2 separate regions of the Homo sapiens genome follow, and region 1 is linked to region 2. Evidence: fine-mapped expression QTL. A gene starts in region 2. The other region holds a variant in brackets. All regions are shown on one strand. Distances are between the middles of the regions. Region 1 has its middle 44 kb from the start of LINC02693. Region 2 holds the start of LINC02693 (long intergenic non-protein coding RNA 2693).

Evidence for each region.
Region 1: its variant is fine-mapped to the expression of LINC02693 in monocytes (TOPMed, PIP 0.91).

Annotation. Positions count from the first base shown.
Region 1 is chr17:21,591,229-21,600,689 of GRCh38, forward strand. It overlaps the pseudogene LOC100533653. Among named protein-coding and RNA genes, the nearest start is that of LINC02693, 44 kb to the left of the region's middle. The variant A/G (reference allele first, on the strand shown) is at 5,389.
Region 2 is chr17:21,546,117-21,555,577 of GRCh38, forward strand. LINC02693 (long intergenic non-protein coding RNA 2693) reads right to left here and starts at 5,562. Exons shown (of 2, transcript NR_160801.1): 1 at 4,880-5,562. RefSeq lists a silencer at 5,456-5,625.

The sequences.
Region 1 (9,461 bases), 45 kb after region 2:
GTATCTACAAATTAAAAATGAAAATAATAATAATAAATTATGTCAGGCAAATATTCACTGATATTGGAAATAATATTTATGCATCTCATTGACTCAATTTATACTAAAAGGCAAATAGCCGTCTTCCTTAATAATAGTTGTAGTATTTTCATAGCCATCTGTTTATCTCTGCAGTTTACTGTGGAGCAAATTTTCATACTTCTCTTCAACACTCAGAGGAATACTTCAAAGAAAAATTGAGACATGAAAGTTGGTTGAAGGTTTTATGGGGTAAACTGGGTTATTTGTGGATAGACGTCATAGCACACAACCGTGTAGCAACTTATACTGAAGTACCATTCAGATATCTCCTCCTCACAAAACGTCTTCTGCTCCCTCGATCCCTTTCTTTAGGCATCTCCTGGTCTCTCATGGGAAGAATATATAATAATAGTCAAGAGGGCTTGGGAGGAAAACAGACTAGTGTTGGCTAATCCATTACATACTCTGGGGAAATTGTTTGAACCATATTCACACCCTGTTAATAAAACCTATCCCATATGGTTAAAATGCGCATCCAATAACATGTCTTTAATGTGTTTAGCACAACATCCAGCTAACTGTACCAATTGTGATAATGGTAACAAAGAAGTGGTCTGAAGCAAACAGAGAGGGAAAGCCCTTATTCCACTTCCATAATCTCCATCATTCTTGCCCCAAAGAGTATGTAACATACAATATAATTAAAAAGGAGTATAGGACATTTAAGATTTCCAGGCTTATCTTCTGAACAACTTGCCATTAAATTCTTCTGCTGCAGATATTATAGACACTTTATAAAGTAAGCACTCAAAATCCTCGTCTCCCTGGTCATCCTCATGTTTGTTTGCCACTGGCATCCTAGAGAATGAACTGGCCTTCTCAATAACATTTTTTTTTGGGGGGCGGAGTCTTGCTCTTTCGCCCAGGCCGGACTGCAGTGGCACAATCTCGGCTCACTGCAAGCTCTGCCTCCCGGGTTCACGCCATTCTCCTGCCTCAGCCTCCCCAGTAGCTGGGACTACAGGCGCCCGCCATGGCGCCCGTCTAATTTTTTTCGTATTTTTAGTGGAGACGGGGTTTCACCGTGTTAGCCAGGATGGTCTCGATCTCCTGACCTCGTGATCCGCCCGCCTCGGCCTCCCAAAGTGCTGGGATTACTGGCACGAGCCACCGCGCCCGGCCCTCGGTAACATTTTGACTTGATCTGTCAAGGCGCTTTCGTCAGTGCTTCTGGGCCGCGGCCGCCACCTACAGCCTCCACAGTGCCCGGCGTCCCGGAGCTGGCTCCACTCCAGTTCCTGAGCACCAAGGCTGCAGAAGCTGAGGCCCCTGACGGAGGCGCCAAGGCCCTGGGGGTGGTTGCTTGAGTCCCGAGCCTGTCTCCTGAAAGGCCAAGGGTGGCCTGCACCTCGCTGACAGCTGTTCCCTGCACTGTTCAGCCCCTCCTGGGAAGCCAGTGACAGCCCCTGCAGCATGCACTCAGCTGCTCCTGCCCCGCAGGTGGGGCTCATTTGCCTCCAGCCCCACTCCAGCCCCTGAGACTAGAAGGAACCGGACGAGGAGGTGTGCAACCTGACCAAGGTGGTCCTAGCGGGGAGCTTCGCTCCAGCGCTCTTCCGGGGAGGCTGGCTCACTTCTGGGACAGTGGCCAACCCAGGCCTGCGACCACCTGCTGAGCCGGTGACCGACGCCGCCTGACCCTCCCTCGCCCGCCAGGGTCCAACGCCCGCTGGACGAATCCCTGCTACACAGAGGGCTCTGGTACCTGCCGTGCCTCATTTAACGGGGCGCCAGGGCCAGGCGCCTCTGGCTGCGCTTTCAGCCCCAAGACTTCTAAGGCTTGGACCCCGCTGTGCGAGCTGTTCAGTGAGATCTGCTGCTGGAGGGCTGGGCTGCATCTAGGAGGGGTTGATGGTGTCTCATCCCTGCAGTCCTATGGAAAGAGGCTGTCTCAGAGAGGGGAGATGGGCAAGCCAGCTGTGGATACTCGGCTGGATGGCCTGGACGCAGCCCTCAACAGCTTGGAGGAGAAGCTGGAGGGCTAGGTACCCACAGAAGGGCTGGAAGCCTGGCCACTGTCACATAAGTCAAGGAGTGTCCCCAAATCTCCCAGCCCCAGAAGCTGACCCTGAAGGGCTAAGGCCAGCATTGGGAGCTGTTCAAGGAACCCATGCAATCCTGCCATGAGAGCCAGGCCACGCTCCAGTGCACACCTGCCCCACACCCTAGGCAGCTCAACCTCAAGGGCTGTGACGGCATTTCTGGTGTTAGTGTCTCTGGCTGTGAGTTCTGCATCCAACTCACCGGAGGCAAGCGACCCCCACCTGCGGGGCAGAAGCAGCCGGGTGCATGCTGCAGGGGCTGCCGCTGGCTTCCCAGGAGGGGCTGCACCGTGCAGGGAACAGCCGCCAGCGAGGTGCAGGCCTTCCAGCAGACAGGCACCGGGTTCGGCAACCACCCCCAGGGCAGTGGCGCCGTTGTCAGGGGCCTCAGCCTCTGTGGTCTTGGTACTCCCTCCACACCCCCAACCCTGCACTTCCACAAAAGTTCAAGGCCAAGCAGCTCATCCCACGGATCCTGGAAGCCCTCAGAATGTGGCCTGGCTCTTACCGACCAGGCCCATCTGTGCCTCCATCAGGCCTGGCAATCCTTGCCTGACTTTGGCATCTACTACCTCATGGTCAGGCTCAAGAGCAGAAAAGATCCTGGGACTCGTCAACAATCAACAGTTCACATCGACTTGACAGTTGGTGATGTGGTGACCTGGGTTTCAGCGATATGTGGTACTGGGATGTCAACTGGGATACCAGCAGGCGGTTATCCACATGGCCTTCAGCTGCGTGTTTCCCATCTGTCCAGTTATGCACAACCACTTGAGGGGCTACATTTTCCTGTTGATCCAGAGTGGGACCCTGGGGAGGAGCTGGATGAGGGGATCTCTTCCTGCAGCTCAGGGATGGCGGCCTTCTAAGGGCTGTCTGACTGCCCCTGTCCTGCTCATCCTCTGCGGCTAGGCTCCCAAGCCCATACCCACTGGGTCTGGCTGCCCCACACCTGCTCCAGGCAGTCACTGAGCTGGGCATGTTCACCTGGTGCCACTGGCTTTGTGCAGGCCAGGGACCTGGCTGAGCCAGACTCTGCCATCATCCAGGCTAGCTAGGGACAGGGGTCCTGAGCTCACAGAGTGCCCGCTTCCCTTGTCAAAGAGGCTGAGGCCAACACCCCTGACCTCTCTGTAGTCCCTGAGCACACAAAGAAGTCCAACTCTAACTATGGGATGATGAGTCCTGGTTTCAAACTGAAGTTTATGTCTTCTTACTTTTAAAAACTAGAAATCACTGTAATTCCCCAAGAAGATAAGGTGTCATGAATGTATTTTTTAACTGTCGTAGACTTATTGAAGTGAGTTTTGCAGTTCTAGTAATCCACAGGACACATTTAAAAAATTGAATAATCTACCTTTGTTTCAGTGTCGGTTACTGATCTTGGTACGGCATTGGAAAGTAAACATGATGTAAAAAATCGCTGGTCTTATATAATTTATATTCTAGCAGGTAAGAGAAACAAACTGTGTATTAGTAGAATATACAGTGCATCAGGTGGTTCTAAGGAGGAAAACAAAGCAGGGCAGAAAAATGAAGTGCTTAGAAAAAGTTTTAGTAATACGATTAAGGTAAGCACCACTTTGAGGAAATATTCGAGCAAAATGATGACTATGGTAAATATTCATTAGGAAAAAATGGAATTTTTGTAAAATGGGAGATGATGTAGGTGAAGAATTTGACAGTTGTGGATATATTAATTTTGGGATTTCCATTAAATAGTTAATTGGAGATGTTAAGTAAGCATTTAAACATATAAATCTGAAACTCAGGGGAGAGTTCTGGCCTGGATATAAAATGTTGAAAATCATTGCTATATTGTTCTTTTGGGCATGTTCAGCTGCATGGGTGCTGGCAAGGATTAGACACACAGACAGTTGCATTTAACCAAGGTTGTAATTTTGGCAGTAGAGCTGAATAAAGCAAGGGAAAGACAAATGAATTGAAGTTGCATAAGCTCTAGAAATTTCAAGTTGATAATTAACTTCAATTTGTTTGAGGAAGATAGATGGGAAGCGAAGGGTTATGGATAGTAAAAAGTTGATAGAAACAGTAGATCATTGTTTCTGTTGAAGCTCACACTTTGTTTCTAGATATATTGTTTTATGGCCAAATGGAGATACTAGCATAAAAAATAGAATGGTTTTTATTAAATAACATTAAATGGAAAAGTGTATTTTGAGTTGTCACTTTATATAAAAAAGTTGAAGAGACATAAGAGTTATAGTGATTTACATCTTTATAAGGTAGTTTTAAAGAGAGATTTGGGGAATGATGAAGGTTAAATGATTAACACACAAACTAAGATTAAATGAGCTGGGCATTGTGACTCATGCCTGTAATCCCAACATTTTGGGAGGCTGAGGTGGGTGGATCGCTTGACCCCAGGAGTTTGAGACCAACCTGCGTAACATAGTGAGACCCTGTCTCTACAAAAAATACAAAAATTAGCCAAGTGTTTTTGCATGCACTTGTAGTCCCAGCTACTGAGGAGGCTGAGTTGGGAGAGATGCTTGAGTCTGGGAGGTTGAGGCAGCAATGAGTTATGATTGTACTATTGCACTCCAGCCTGGGTGACAGACTGAGATCCTGGGAAAGAAAAGAAAAGAAGATGAGAGAAGGGAGAAAAGGGGAGGAGAGGGGAGGGAGAGAAGAGAGAGGAAGAGAAGAGAACGAAGAGAAGAGAGAGAAGAGAAGGGAAAGAAAAAGGAAAATGGAAGAGAAAAGAAAGGAGAAAGGGGAAGAGAGAAAATAAACAACAACAACAAAAACAACAATCAAATCAAACAACACATAGATTTACTGAAGCAGAAAGAAAGACCTGAGTCTATAGACCAACAGGTTGGAGCTCCAGATGACAGTGCTGAGAAAAAAAATCCCCATGGAATCACATGCTAAAGAATATGTGTTTGATTAGGAACTCCAGAGAAGGGGTAGATGCCAATAATGAAATGGAAAGAGTAACAAGGTTAGAAAAAGGAAATTAATAACTAGAGTGATCAATAACCAGAGGAAAAAACCCACAAGGTAAACCAATAAATGTAAAATAAGCCAGAAGAAATAAAATCAACTACAGTAGATCAATTGTATAATGAAATGTAAACAGATGAATTCCCATTAAAAGACAAAGGTCAGCTTGGGTTTAAAAATACAGTGATAACTGGGCAATATGGTGAGATCCCCGTCTCTCCAAAAGAAAAAAAAATACAAAAAATTAGCTGGGTGTAATGGTGCATGCCTGTAGTCCCAGCTACTGTAGAGGCTG[A/G]GGTGGGGGGATCACCTCAAACTAGAAGGTCAATGCTGAAGCAAGCTGTGATGTTGCCACTGCACTCCAGCCAGGGCAACAGAACAAGACCCTGTCTCAATCAACACCACCACCAACAAAAAAACCCAGTGATGTATATATACAAGAAAAACACTTAAACAATGATAATGGTGGAAAATAAAAGAATGCCAAGAGATACCAGGAAAGTGCAAAAGCTAAAGTAAAATAAAGAGTGGCCATAATAATAATAGAAGGGTGAAATTTAAGGTTAAGCACTGAAATGGGATAAAGAGGGACACCATGTAATGATAGGCACAATTCGTAATGAGAGAACACTCGAAATCTGCATGCTCCCAACAGCATCACAGTAAATACAAAAAGCAAAATCTAGTAAAAGATGAGATTTATAGAGAAAATTTATAGAGAAAATTATAGAGAACACTCAAAATCTGCATGCTCCCCACAGCATCATAGTAAATACAAAAAGCAAAAACTAGTAAAAGAAGAGATTTATAGACAAAATTTGAGTGGAAGGCTAAATCTCTGTTAGAACTACAGTAAAAGCCTCCTCCCCCAAAGGATACAAAAGAAGTGACAGTTTGAATAACCAAAAACTTGATTTGGTATATATGGGACCTTATATCCCTTAAATAGAAAATATATATTTTTTCTATGTCTATGAAAATCTTAGAAAAATCATTTGGCCACAAAGAAATTCATAATAAATTTTAAAAGTGGAGAGTTTACAAATTTGGAGAAAATGAATGCTTTCCTAGTAAAATATAAAGTGCCCCTAATGAACTAGATAATGAGTAGAAACTTAATTACCACTGACGAGAAAAAAATCTGCCACTGAAAAAAGCACCAGGTCCAGACGGTTTCATGAGAAGGAACTGTAGAATCCTTTAGAATTCACCTCCGTCAACACCTTCCTCCTCTGGGAAGCACTCCTGGATTTCCCTCTTGCTGACAAGATCCTGGGAGAGTGGCTTCTCCATCATGTCCCTGACACAGCTTCTTGAAGATGTACCATATCATATCATAACCATATGATATCATATCTGCATACCACATCCTAACTGGATTTGATGGCCAATATGTCCTGGAAAATAAGCTACCTGAGTGTAGGAATCACACTTTTTTATTGGTTTCTAGTGCCTGGTACAGTACAGCAGCTGACACTGGCTGACTAGGTGAATACGGTAAGTGAAAAAGCAGAATGCACAATCATCAGTACTCTGCGATGCCCTTATGGGAAATCCCCAAGACACACACATAGGAAGGAGAATAAATGAAAAGAAACCAAAATGCTAACAGTAATCAGATTGAGATTTCCCCCATTATCCAAATATTTATGATGTAGTTAAACAATTTTTATAGGGTGAATAGTAATTTATACAACCACCTGGGCCAAGGAGTAGAAGAGGAGGAGGAAGGCTCAGAGGATCTTCAGGCAGGCCCTTCTGCTACCTCGGCTTCCTTTCTCCGGCCAGGTGGTCCAGCCGCCAGGCAGACATGAAGGCCCTGACAGGGGCCTCTGCCCCACCACCTTCATGCCTCATAGGGGACCTCTAGCTAGGAGGAAGGTGATGAGACAGGGTAGGCACCCACCAGGAGCCTAAGCTGGACAGAAGGGTCCCGTGGGTCTTACCTGGCCCAGGCAGCAGCTCTGGAAATTCTATCAACACTAGATTCCTCCAAACAGAGCCTCCTAAATTTTAGCAAGAGCTCCTATGCCCTTCAGCCCCAGGGCCTTAGTCCTGTCAGCCCCATTTCCCCCTCAATATAAACCAACAGCCACTGTCCCCTCACTCTGTGGCCCAGATCCAGCTCTGAGTCTCCCTAGCTTTCGGGCATGGAGCCCCAACTGCATTCCTGGTGATCAGCTACTCCTGGTCATGACCATGGACTTTCCTATGTCCCGGAGCCTGGCACTGACCATCCATCTAGGCTGGCATTCCATACTAATGCCCACCCCTCCCTCTACTGGACACAGTCAGCTCTAGGAAGGGGAGAGAAAATCCATCTAGAATGAGGGCAACTGCTGTGGCTGGGGAAAGATGCGACAGGGCAGATGAGCTTGTCCTGGTGCCCATCTCAGGCCCCTGCAGGCTGCAGGGAGCCAGGGACTAAGAGGTGAATAACAGGTGCAGCCTTCAGGGAGATCCCCAGAGGACCATGGGGGCTGAAGGGAAGGGAGGGGTGGATGGAGAGAGCTCTTGGTGGACAGGAATGTGAAGTGAAGATGGAGGGAGACCCAAGAACCTGCTCTCTCAGAGGTCAGACACTAGACAGGCAGCAGGGCTTCTGGGTCAGCCTGGGTCTGCAGGTGAGTCAGGGGAGGGAAAGGTTGGGCCAGGCGTAATCCAGCTGAACCACCCAGGGTGGCTTCTCCAGCTTGGGGGTGGGGGAGTTGTTGTAGGAGGGAGCACAGGCAAGGGGACTCACTGGAGTCCCCTCAACTTGGCTTCAGCTTCCTGCTGATACCAGCTTCCCTTTCCAAAGGCCCCCAGCTGGCCCCGGAGTAGAACAGATGGGTCTGTCCTGAAGTCAGTTTCTTTCTCTCAATCACAGTGACTTTGGGCTGCCCTTGGAGTTTGACCTAGGAAGTGGGTGCAGGGCCTGGATCCAGAGAGGAAGGGTCACTGGATGGATTATAGGATGGGGGAAGGGGAGGACCAGGTGGAAGTTCAGGAGGGAGGGGAGAGAGTGAGGAAACTGCTGTGGCCCTCTCCTGGTCCTTCATGGGTGAGGGCTCACTCACAGTTCCCAGAAGAGGAGGAGGAACAAGGGGTCCCAGCTCCTTCCAGTCCAGGCTGCCAGCTCAGATGTGGGGCCTCCAGAGCTGTTCGTATAAGAAGTTGCAGCAGCCAGGCTCCACTGGCCTGGGCTTTCTCCTTTTGAGGCGGGATTGATGACTGCACCCTGAAATCCCCGAGTCAGGACTGCAGCAGTGGAGAGGAGGCTCAGAGGCCCCTTTATTCTCCGGGCTTTTGCCTGGCTTCCCTGGGATTCCTGAGTGGCCTCCTTTGAGGGAGGGGAAGAGTTGTCCCTGCTTACCTTCCCCTTGCCACCCTCTCTCTCCTTCAAGAGGGCTTGCTTTCTGCCCTCTCCTAGGGAGCCAGGAAACAGGAGACATCCCTCTCCTGGGACATCAAATTCTCCAACTACACCCTCAGCTGCAGATGGCAAGGTCACGATTTGGAATTCATGTCTCCTTCCCTGCTGCCCATGCCCACAACAGGGCTGGGCACACAGAGGATGATCAGAAGAATGAGCATGTGCTTGCCTTTGGCTTGTATTCTTCTTGCCGAGTCTAACAGGGTGGTCAACCCTGATGGCCACCTGGCTGAAACTGAACGTGGTGGCCTGGGTGGGTTTTATGGGCAGGAGACCTGGAACTGTCCTAGACACAGCCATTTCCTGGCAGCATGACCTTCGGCCAGTCACTAAACCTCTCTGAACATCTGTTTGTACTCAAGGCAAATGGAGGTGTCTATGTCTGCCTTCCAACTTGTTAGAAGCTTAACCCTGGGTGCAAGCCTTTGAGTAAGAGGCCACAGTACTGTTAGCCCCTTTGGGAATGTGTCTTACCATATTTTATGTCCCCTGTGTCCAACACAGTGACCAGTACATACCAAGTACTCAATATGTGAAATTAGAGTGCATGGTGAATGACAAGACTGCGCCATACATGGCAGGAGCTCCTCTCTTCTAGGGGTCTGTGGGCTTGCCCAGTAACCTGCCCTAAGCCATGAGCCGATGCCCAACAGACAGGTGTCCCCACTCTCCAATGACCCTGTGTCACTGCCACCCTCACATCGTTGCCCCCTCTGTTCTGCTCCACCTCTCCTTTCTTAAGAGATCCCTTCTCAGCAATGATCTCCTGCCCATCCACCTAAATTTGGGGATATTTCCATCTATGACCCTACACCCCCTCTATCCACACCATCTCTCTCCCCTTCTGCCTGTTGTCTACACTCTCGATCTGCATCCTCACCTTCACTCCTGACCCACTGTCCTCTGCCTTCAGCAACACCCTTGACCAGCTGGCCTTCTGGTGGCCACATTGG
Region 2 (9,461 bases):
CATTCCCCCTCCCTCCCCCTCAGGACCTGCACCCCACTGCACGGCACCTTCTATTCTGCTGTCATGGCCCAGAGCTCTGTTCATCTGCTTCAAGCAGCTCTCCACCCCGCTTCCTCCCTCCCCTCCTGCTGGATCTCTTTCTTTCATTGGTTCTTGTCCCGTTCCCTCAGTAAAAGAACTCTCCTTCCAATCTGCCTCATTCACATTCACTTGGGAACCAAAAATTCACCCCACAGCTTAGTATTCCCAGTTGTGGAAAAATTCAGGCACCTTCTGGATGAGACAAATGTGAAGAAGCCAGACATGAAAAAACACTTATATGGATTGATTTATATGAAATGCCCAGGGAAGAAAAATCTATTGAGATGGAAACTAGATTTGTGATTGCTTACAGCTGGGGTAGGGGTGGGGGAACAGGGTGATAGCTAAAAGGTACAGGACTAATAAAAATGTTGTAAACTTAACCATGGTTTTGGTTGCACATATCTGTGATTATACTAAACCCTAGCAGATCATAAGGTATGTGAATTTTTCCTCAATAAAGCTGTTTAAAAATAAAAAAAAAATTAGGCTGGGCACAGCAACTTACCCTGTAATACCAGCACTTGGGGAGGCTGAGGCAGGAGGATTGTTTGAGGCTAGGAGTTCAAGACCAGCCTGGACAATAGAGTGAGACCCCATCTCTACAAAAGATTTAAAAAATTTAGCCAAGCATGGTGGTGCGCACTTGTAGTCCTAGGTACTTAGGAGGCTGATGTGGGAGGATCACTTGAGCCTGAGAGGTGAAGGCTGCAGTGAGCCGTGATCATGCTACTGCAATCCAGCCTGGGAGACAGAGAAACATCCCAACTCAAAAAAAAAATTATTACGAACTATTTTATACATACAAAATTACACAGACACACACACATACACAGACTCACATAAAAGTAAAATAAATACATTGTACCCATCACCTGCACCACTACATTTGAAGCCATCTGCATGGTTGGCCCTTCTGAAATGTAACCCCATCTGGGACAATCATTCATCTGAAGCTTTACAAAAAGTATTTCCCTGACTTTCATTATACTTTTATTACATAATAATATCTCTAAATAATATATTGTTTCTCTAAATAATATACTGTTTAACTTTGTAAGTTTTTACACTTTCTATAAATGTGCTGTGTATCTCTGTAACTTGCATTACTCATTCCACATTGTATTTTCGAGAGCCTTCTATGTTTTAAGTAGTTTCTCATTCAATTCTATATATTGCTTACTAATTAGCCTTTAAATTGAATATACTAAGACCTGCTGGAGAGAGAATTCTTGTGGGATAATGAGTATAAAGTGCTTAAAGCAGTGCCCCATTCATTATAGGTATTCAATATATGTAATACTATACACAATATTTTAATACTGAGTAATTATATACATATTATGATTGCTTGTTTCTTTGTGGATGTACATTATTTCATCAACTGCACTATGAACTAATAGTTTTCTTTCTTCTAGGGGAGGGGGCGGGGTCTGGCACTGTTGCCCAGGCTGAAGTACACTGGTGCGATCACGGCTCACTGCAGCCTAGACCTCCCGGGCTCAAGGATCCTCCCACCTCAGCCTCCTGAGTAGCTGTGTCTATCAGCAGTGCCACCACTCCCAGCTAATTTTTAAATTTTTTGTAGAGATGGGGTTTCACCATGTTGCCCAGGCTGGTCTCTAACTCCTAGCTCAAGTGATCTGCCCACCTTAACCTCCCAAAGTGCTGGGATTACCGCTGTAAGCCATTATGCTGGGCAAGAGTTTTCAAACTACGGTAAAATTCAAGTTACAGATACCTTTGGGAAATGCCTCATTCTAAGTATTTGAAGCTTCCAGATAGCTAAGATTAAAAATTTTTACATACTAACTTGTTTCTAAGTGTATGCTTTTACATTTAAACAAACTAAAAACATAAGCTTTATAAAAAAATTTCAGCCATTTCCAAATTCTCTTCCAAACTTGTTTAGAAACATACATGACAGAGCTTTGGTCGGATTGTGCAAACTGTTGTGTGTTCTGTTTTTAAAATATTACTTAACTTGTACACTTCCACACATTGGCATGGCACATCATTGCCATTTCCAATACGTTCCTGTGCTTCACCAATTTCCATAGCTGTCAGAGGGAGAGCAGCCCAGGTGACAGGAAATGAAGTTGTCTGGCTCCGAGTCCTTACTAGGAGGACTTCTGGGATCCAGAATCTTTGCATGGGGCAGATGACATATTCTTAGAGGCCATTCATTTTTTCCACTGTAGCTGCTAGTGCCAGTTTCCACTCCACTGCCTGAGGGCAGGTTGATCTTGTAAGCCATCACCGATGGATTTGTGGTCACTGCCTGGAACCCTGTGCCAAAGAGGACTGGGAGGTCCCATTCAGGAGGGAATCCTCTGACTTATTACTGGCATCTGAGCATCTCCCAGCATGGCTGTTCCTACTTGTAATAAGGTGATGTCAAATGACTCCAGGGCAGTGCTCCGGTTCCCATGAACACATCTGGTCACTCTGGGAGCTTTTGAGTCAGTGAGCTCTCTCCTCACATCCCGATACACTGTTGTTTGCAAAAATATATTTTTATAGGCAAGGTATTTGTGTTTTGGATTTGCACCCTGATGCAGGCATTAATTTGTTTAAAAGGATAATTTAACATTTTCAGGAAGCTGAACATCTTTAAATTCTCTTTTGATTATTTCTAGTTTTATTGCATTATGACCCAGAAATGTGTACAATTTTTGTTCTTGTATACTCACTAAGGATTCTTCTTGTTTTCAGAGTAGGACCAAAGGTATTTCTATTTGTTTGCAAGTCTGTTGGCTCAGTTTCTAAAGAGTTCATTTTGTTACCATGTTCTTTTAAGTATATACATACAGGTTAGTTACGTTTCCAGTTTCCTGTGCTTTTTATTTTTTTTTTAAACAAGCTTTTCTGGCCCTTCATTCTCTCAGACTTTTCCTTCCATGCCTTATGCTGTAGATAAAGTCTATGATCTAACGTCTGTCAGTTAAGATTGTTTTCAGCTCTGGAGACCAGAAAATCTGACCCACATAGCAAGAACAAGCAAGGGCAGGAGATGAGGCTGAAGAGGCAGGCACCAGGTTGTCTGAGCTTTTATTCTACTGCAATGAGTAGATAGTGGCAGGGTTTACACAGGGGTGGGGGTATGCCTATATCATGTTTTAACATTTTCAAGAGATCACTCTGGATGCTTGAGTGGAGGCTGGACTGTAGCAGGGCAAGACAAGATGCAGGGAGGTTGGAGGATTCTTGGCAGTAGCCCAGTAGGAGAGGAAGGTGACTGAAACTGGTTGTGGAAATGGAGATGGTGAATCAGGATGCTGGTTGCACTCAAGAGCCACAGGACTTGCTGTGTGGTTGCATGGGGGTTGGGGGAGAAGGGAAAAGAGTCAGGGATGACTCTTGGTGCTCCCCTCAGGGAAGAGGCCCCAAGCCTAGTGGTTATCAACAGATGGATGGTATTTAAAGCTATGAGACTGTGTGGGATCATTCTGAGAGGATCACTAGAGATCTGGTGGAGGAGGAGCAGGAGGATGAGGATAAAGGTGAGAGGGAATCCAGGAGGGAAGGTCCCTAAAATCCAGAAGAAAGGGTGGAACTCCTCAATTGTATCGTCTGTGTCAAATGCAGCTAAATGACTGAGATAAAAGTCGTTTCAGCAAAGTACCTTGGAGGAAAGCTGGAAAGGAGTGGGTGCAAGAGAGGACATGAGGTGAGGAAGTTGCATGGAGCAGAGAAACAGAATGGTAAATGGAGAGAAACCTGGGGTTAAAAAAGGTCTATTTGTTTAATGCACAGCATTAAGGAATGCTTGTGTGTGGACACTAGCAAAAAATCAGTACAGAGAACCCCAGAATTCTGGGGTCATAGCCCGAAAGGACTCCTCAGCTCCAAATTTACTTGAAGTTACAGCTTCCATCTTTAAATTAAATGGGATTTTTTTTTTTTTTGCCATCTATTTCATCATACAGGATGTGACACAGAATATATCTGAAAGTATAACTTTCCTGGAAGAACACATCTTAGTTTTTAATATCTAAACTGTATAGCAGCTATTTATCTCACAAAACATTTTTCAGGCTGAGTGCGGTTGGTGACTCACGCCTGTGATTCCAGCACTTTGGGAGGCCAAGGCAGGAAAATTGCTTGAGTCTAGAAGTTCGAGGCCAGCCTGGGCAATGTGGGGAGATGTAGTTTCTACAAAAAATTTAGAAATTAACAGGCATGGTGGCACAAACCTGTGGTCTCAGCTACTGGGGAGGCTGAAGCAGGTGGATCGCTGGAACCCCTTTCGTGGTGCAGTTTGGGCAAAAGAGCAAGAACCTGTCTCAAATTTTTTGGCTGATGGTTGTAGACATAATGTTTGAGCTTTCAAAAATTACAACATTTTAAACTAAATAGTTTGCTGGAAAAAACCACATGTTCCTTCCAGAAACAACTGGTAGACCATCAGGATCATGACAGTCACTTCAAAAAGCTTTGGTGTGTTGACAAAGGGGAGGTTCACGTGTGATGTTGCTGGTCGCACAGCTACTGCATCCAAGGCAAATGCATGTTAACAACCATATCAAATGTGGGTGACCAAGTGGCAACATTTAAGCATTTTACATCCTAACTTATGTGCAACTTAAACCTACTGCCACACTGTGAGTTAGGAAATTGGTAGGTTTTTTTCTATTGACTTGTTGTGCCCTATAATTTTTCCTATTTAAAATAATGGGAAACAAGTTTTCAGTTTTTTTCTCAGAAAAAGTCTGACATTTCAGGCACAGATATGTCTGACAGTTATTACCAGCAGAAGAGTTTCTAGCCTTTTCATCGTAAAATTTTAATTACTTACCTTGGAAATTACTTAACTTCGTTCCTTCCAAATCTGGTAGTAAAATGGGTGCTCCAGAAAGCTGTGGCACGGATATTCTGCTGCTTTGCTCGTCTCTGCACAGACCTGGGGCTTGAGGAGCCTGCAGCCACGAAGTACAGGACGTCATCAGAATGGAAAAGCGATCCAGATGGTCCCGCAGGCGCAGTGCTGGGGCGTAAAGTGCAGCCTGTGCACGGCGGGTGGGAGGCGCGCGGGCTCGCCGGGGCTCGGGACTGTGTTCTTGCAGCCGAGAGGCCCACACAGGACAAGGAGGCCTGACCCAGGCTGTTGGAGCCCGCGAAGAGGGGGTGAAACTCCAAGGGGCGTAAGGGTGATCACACGTGCGGCCAAGCTTCCCGTCTGCATGGCGAGGGGCTGGGCCTTTCCGTCGTGATTTTTCTCCCATTATGCCGGGCGCGTAGCGGGCCCTGGGGCGGCGGGACCGGTGCGGGCGTTCAGTCAGCCCGGGGTCCTGGAGGCCGGCGGGGGGATTCGCAGCAGCCCGAGGGACGGATGGATGGCAGAAAGGAGTCTCTACTTCCAGGTTCCCAGTGATCGCTATGTTCCTTACAAGCAGTAAACTCACGACTTCAGACACCCGCCACGGAGCTCCGCGCGCAGTCCTCAAACAGCCAGCCACGCCGGCCGGGCGCACAGCGCATGCCCCGGGGTCGGGGCGGGGCGGAGGAGACGGGGCGGGGCGGAGGGGACGGGGCGGGGCGGAGGGGACGAGGCGGAGCCGGGCGGGGTTGAGGGGACGGGGCGGGGCTTGGCGGGGGCGGAGCCGCCCAGCGCTGAATCCAAATCGTATCTAAGCTATTTTCTAGCTCTGACATCGTATACATCACTGCATACGTGAATAGCATGCCAAATACTGTATAAACCAATACTGGTTTTTTTCTTCTCGGGAGGTACTATATAAATAAAGCACGTACACGGTATCTAATATCAGAACATTCAAATCCCATATTGAAAAGATTATAAATTGACCATAATCCTATAATTCTGTTTAGCAACAGTGCGTTCCTTCTCAGTCTTCACTTTTAAAATATCTAAGAGGCTCGATGTCTTGAGGCTTTTTCTTTTTAAACCCAACATCCTTTTTCACATTTATTAGTTTAGTACTTTGGTTTTACTCAATAAAAAGGTGGGGTTAAAAAAATCTGAATTATTCTGCAATGTTTCAGGCAACAGAGGCTGAAAACAACACTGTTAAGGCGGGGGGACAATTCTTATACTCTGTGAGTCTTCTTGTTTAATTTTCATTAAATTTCCAGAATAATAAGCGTAGGATAGCTAACGTTTGTCTTTGCGTCGTAGATTAGTTAACCTTTACTGAATTCACAATATGGCATCAGAGATTTAATCTGCATTTCCTAATTCTTATAAATTAAAGCTGAAGTTTAAGCTTCATTCGCACGTCACAAATACCACTTGCCCTGAATAAATAATGTTTTTAGAAGTGAGCATTCCTGATCTCCCTGTTTGTTAAGAATTGTCTTCTTTTTTCAGCTGCTACTCTGCTAAGACAAGAGTTAGCCCCTGAGCTATGTTATCAGTTCAAGGCTTTGCAGATAGCGCTGTATCGTGGGGGAAAAATGAACATGGTTTTCAAAAAGGAGGAGAACATTTCTATAACGTTGAGACTTTTAGTAATCAGGGCTATTGATGTCAGATGGCTGTTGGGACAAATGACATCATAAAAAATACAAAATTTAAAATTATGTTTGTTTATGTTTGTTTGTTTTCAGATTTCTTAGTAGTAAAGGGGCTGTGTTTTCACTCAGGCTTATATGATGATGACATTTCTCAGACCAGCAGCTATCTGCTAGCATTCTGTCCTGGACTTGGGGTGCACCTGTGACAGTAGCTGGGCTTGTCATCCAGTGAATAGCTCATAGTTGACTCCTCTCCATCAGTATAAGCATGGGTGTGGGTGACTGCATGGTAGAGGGGGCCGGGGTAGCCAGGGACCAGAGGTTAGTGAACCATTGGGTAAGATGTATAACTGTTACTCAGGCTCATAATTTTTCAACTTTTTCAGATAGTAATAACAAGAAAGTCCATCCTTACCAGTGTCAGTCTCTGTTTTAAGTGTTGTTCATATATTACCTCATTTAATTATCACACCAACCCTATGAGACTCAGAATGTAAATAGGCTACTGAGGTCACATTGCTGGTGGATCTTAATCTCAGGCCAGCTTGGCTCCTAAGTGTGTGTTCTCACTCTATTGCCTCTAGAACAGGAAGGAATATATGGATACTGTAAATTGTTAAAGAACAAGTTGAAAGAATTTTATTTCCGGCAACATGGGCTGACAAGAACCAGAAAACAACAAAAACTTCTGGAATACATATCAAGAACCATTTTAAAAAATGTATCAATGAGCTGCAAAATAATTAAGAGTTCGCAAAGGCAAAAAAATTAAAATTAAAAAGTGAAAGTAGAAACCCAAAGAAGTAATTAGATGCCATTTTTCACCCTTAAGATAGTTGCCAAGTGTCATACTGAAACTCTCTTTTCATAGTCTGGGAAGAGGATGGGGCAGCAGAATAGCAGACAAAGTTTAGATCCTGTCCAAGGTAGGACGGTTAGCAGAAGACATCAAAAGTAGGACACCAGCCGGGCGCGGTGGCTCAAGCCTGTAATCGCAGCACTTTGGGAGGCTGAGGCGGGCGGATCACGAATTCAGGAGATCGAGACTACCCTGGCTAACACGGTGAAACCCCATCTCTACTAAAAATACAACAATTAGCCGGGCGTAGTGGCGGGCGCCTGTAGTCCCAGCTACTCGGGAGGCTGAGGCAGGAGAATGGCGTGAACCCGGGAGGTGGAGGTTGCAGTGAGCCGAGATTGCGCCACTGCACTCCAGCCTGGGCGACAGAGCCAGACTCTGTCTCAAAAAAAAAAAAAAAAAAAAAAAAAAAAAAAGTAGGACACCAAAAAGATAGGTTTAGTGTAGGAGGGAACTATGAATCAACCTGTCTGCCTCCCCTGTCTCCTGCCCCCTCAATCCCTGCAGCCCCTGGAGCAGCAGACAAGATTATCCATCCTGAGGGAAAACATCCCTCCTGAGAGTGAGGATACATTAATATATAACCATGGGCAGCCCTTCCACTGGTGGCTTCACACACAAACTGTATAATCTAAAAAGTCTCAAGCTGCAAATTTAAAGTGACATCAGGTTTTTAATGCCTTCCAGGTGCCTGGCAAAAGCAAAATGGAAGACAGCTTCATGGAATGTAAGTTTTTAATCAAAAATCACAAACATTTATAATGGGCAAGAGCCAGCAGAAACAATGTACAGAGGAGAAAACCTACAGAGACTTAAGATATTAGAGTCACCAAACATCACATAAAGTGTGTCTTACATGTAAAGAAACAAGGGGATTAAAGAGCATGAGTATGAAAATAACCAAGTAGATTGGGAAAAATTACCAAATAGAAATCTAGATTTGAAAAATACCATAATTGAAATGGAAAGTTTAATGGATTAGTGTCACAGCCAACTAGATACTACCAAAAAGAGAATAATGGATATGAAGAAATAAAGACATTTTTAGACTTGTAAAGACTTAAGACTTTCTTACCTGGAGACCTGCACCACAAGAAAAATTAAAGGATGTCTTTTAGGCCTTAAGAAGGATACCATATTGAAATCTAGATCTGCACAAAGGAATGAAGAACACTGGAAATAGTAACAACATGGACAAATATATGATTTGTTATTATTACTTAAGCCTCTTTAAAATATAATTGTTTAAACAAAAATAATAAAGTACTATGGAATTTACAACATGTAAAATAAAATGGATGACAGTCATAGCTTAAAGACTAGGAGGGAAGAAGTATACTGATGTAAGTTTCTTATACTAAAATGATATATTATCACTTGAAGGTAGACTGTGATCAGTTGAAGACATGCACTATAAACACTAAAGCAACCACTAAAATAACAAGCCAAAGAATTGTAGCTGTTCAGGATAACACAAACAATCTCATCAAAAAGTGGACTAAGGACATGAATAGACAATTCTCAAAAGAAGATATACTAATGGCCAACAAACATATGAAAAAAATGCTCAACTTCACTAATTATCAGAGAAATGCAAATCAAAACCACAACACGATACCACCTTAATCCTGCAAGAATGACCATAATAAAAGAATCAAAAAATTAAAATAGATGTTGGTGTGGATGTGGTGAGAAGGGAACACTTTTACACTGTTGGTGGGAATGTAAACTAATACAACCACTATGGAAAACAGTGTGGCGATTCCTTAAAGAACTAAAAGTAGATCTACCACTTGATCCAGCAATCCCACTTCTGGTTATCTACCCAGAGGAAAATAAATCATTACATGAAAAAGATACTTGCACATGCATGTTTATAGCAGCATCATTCACAATTGCAAAAATAAGGAACCAGCCCAAATGCTCATCGATCAACGAGTGAATAAAGAAAATGTGGCATATATGTGTATATGTATGTATGTGTGTATATGTATGTATGTGTGTATATATATGTGTGTGTGTGTGTGTATATATATATACACAC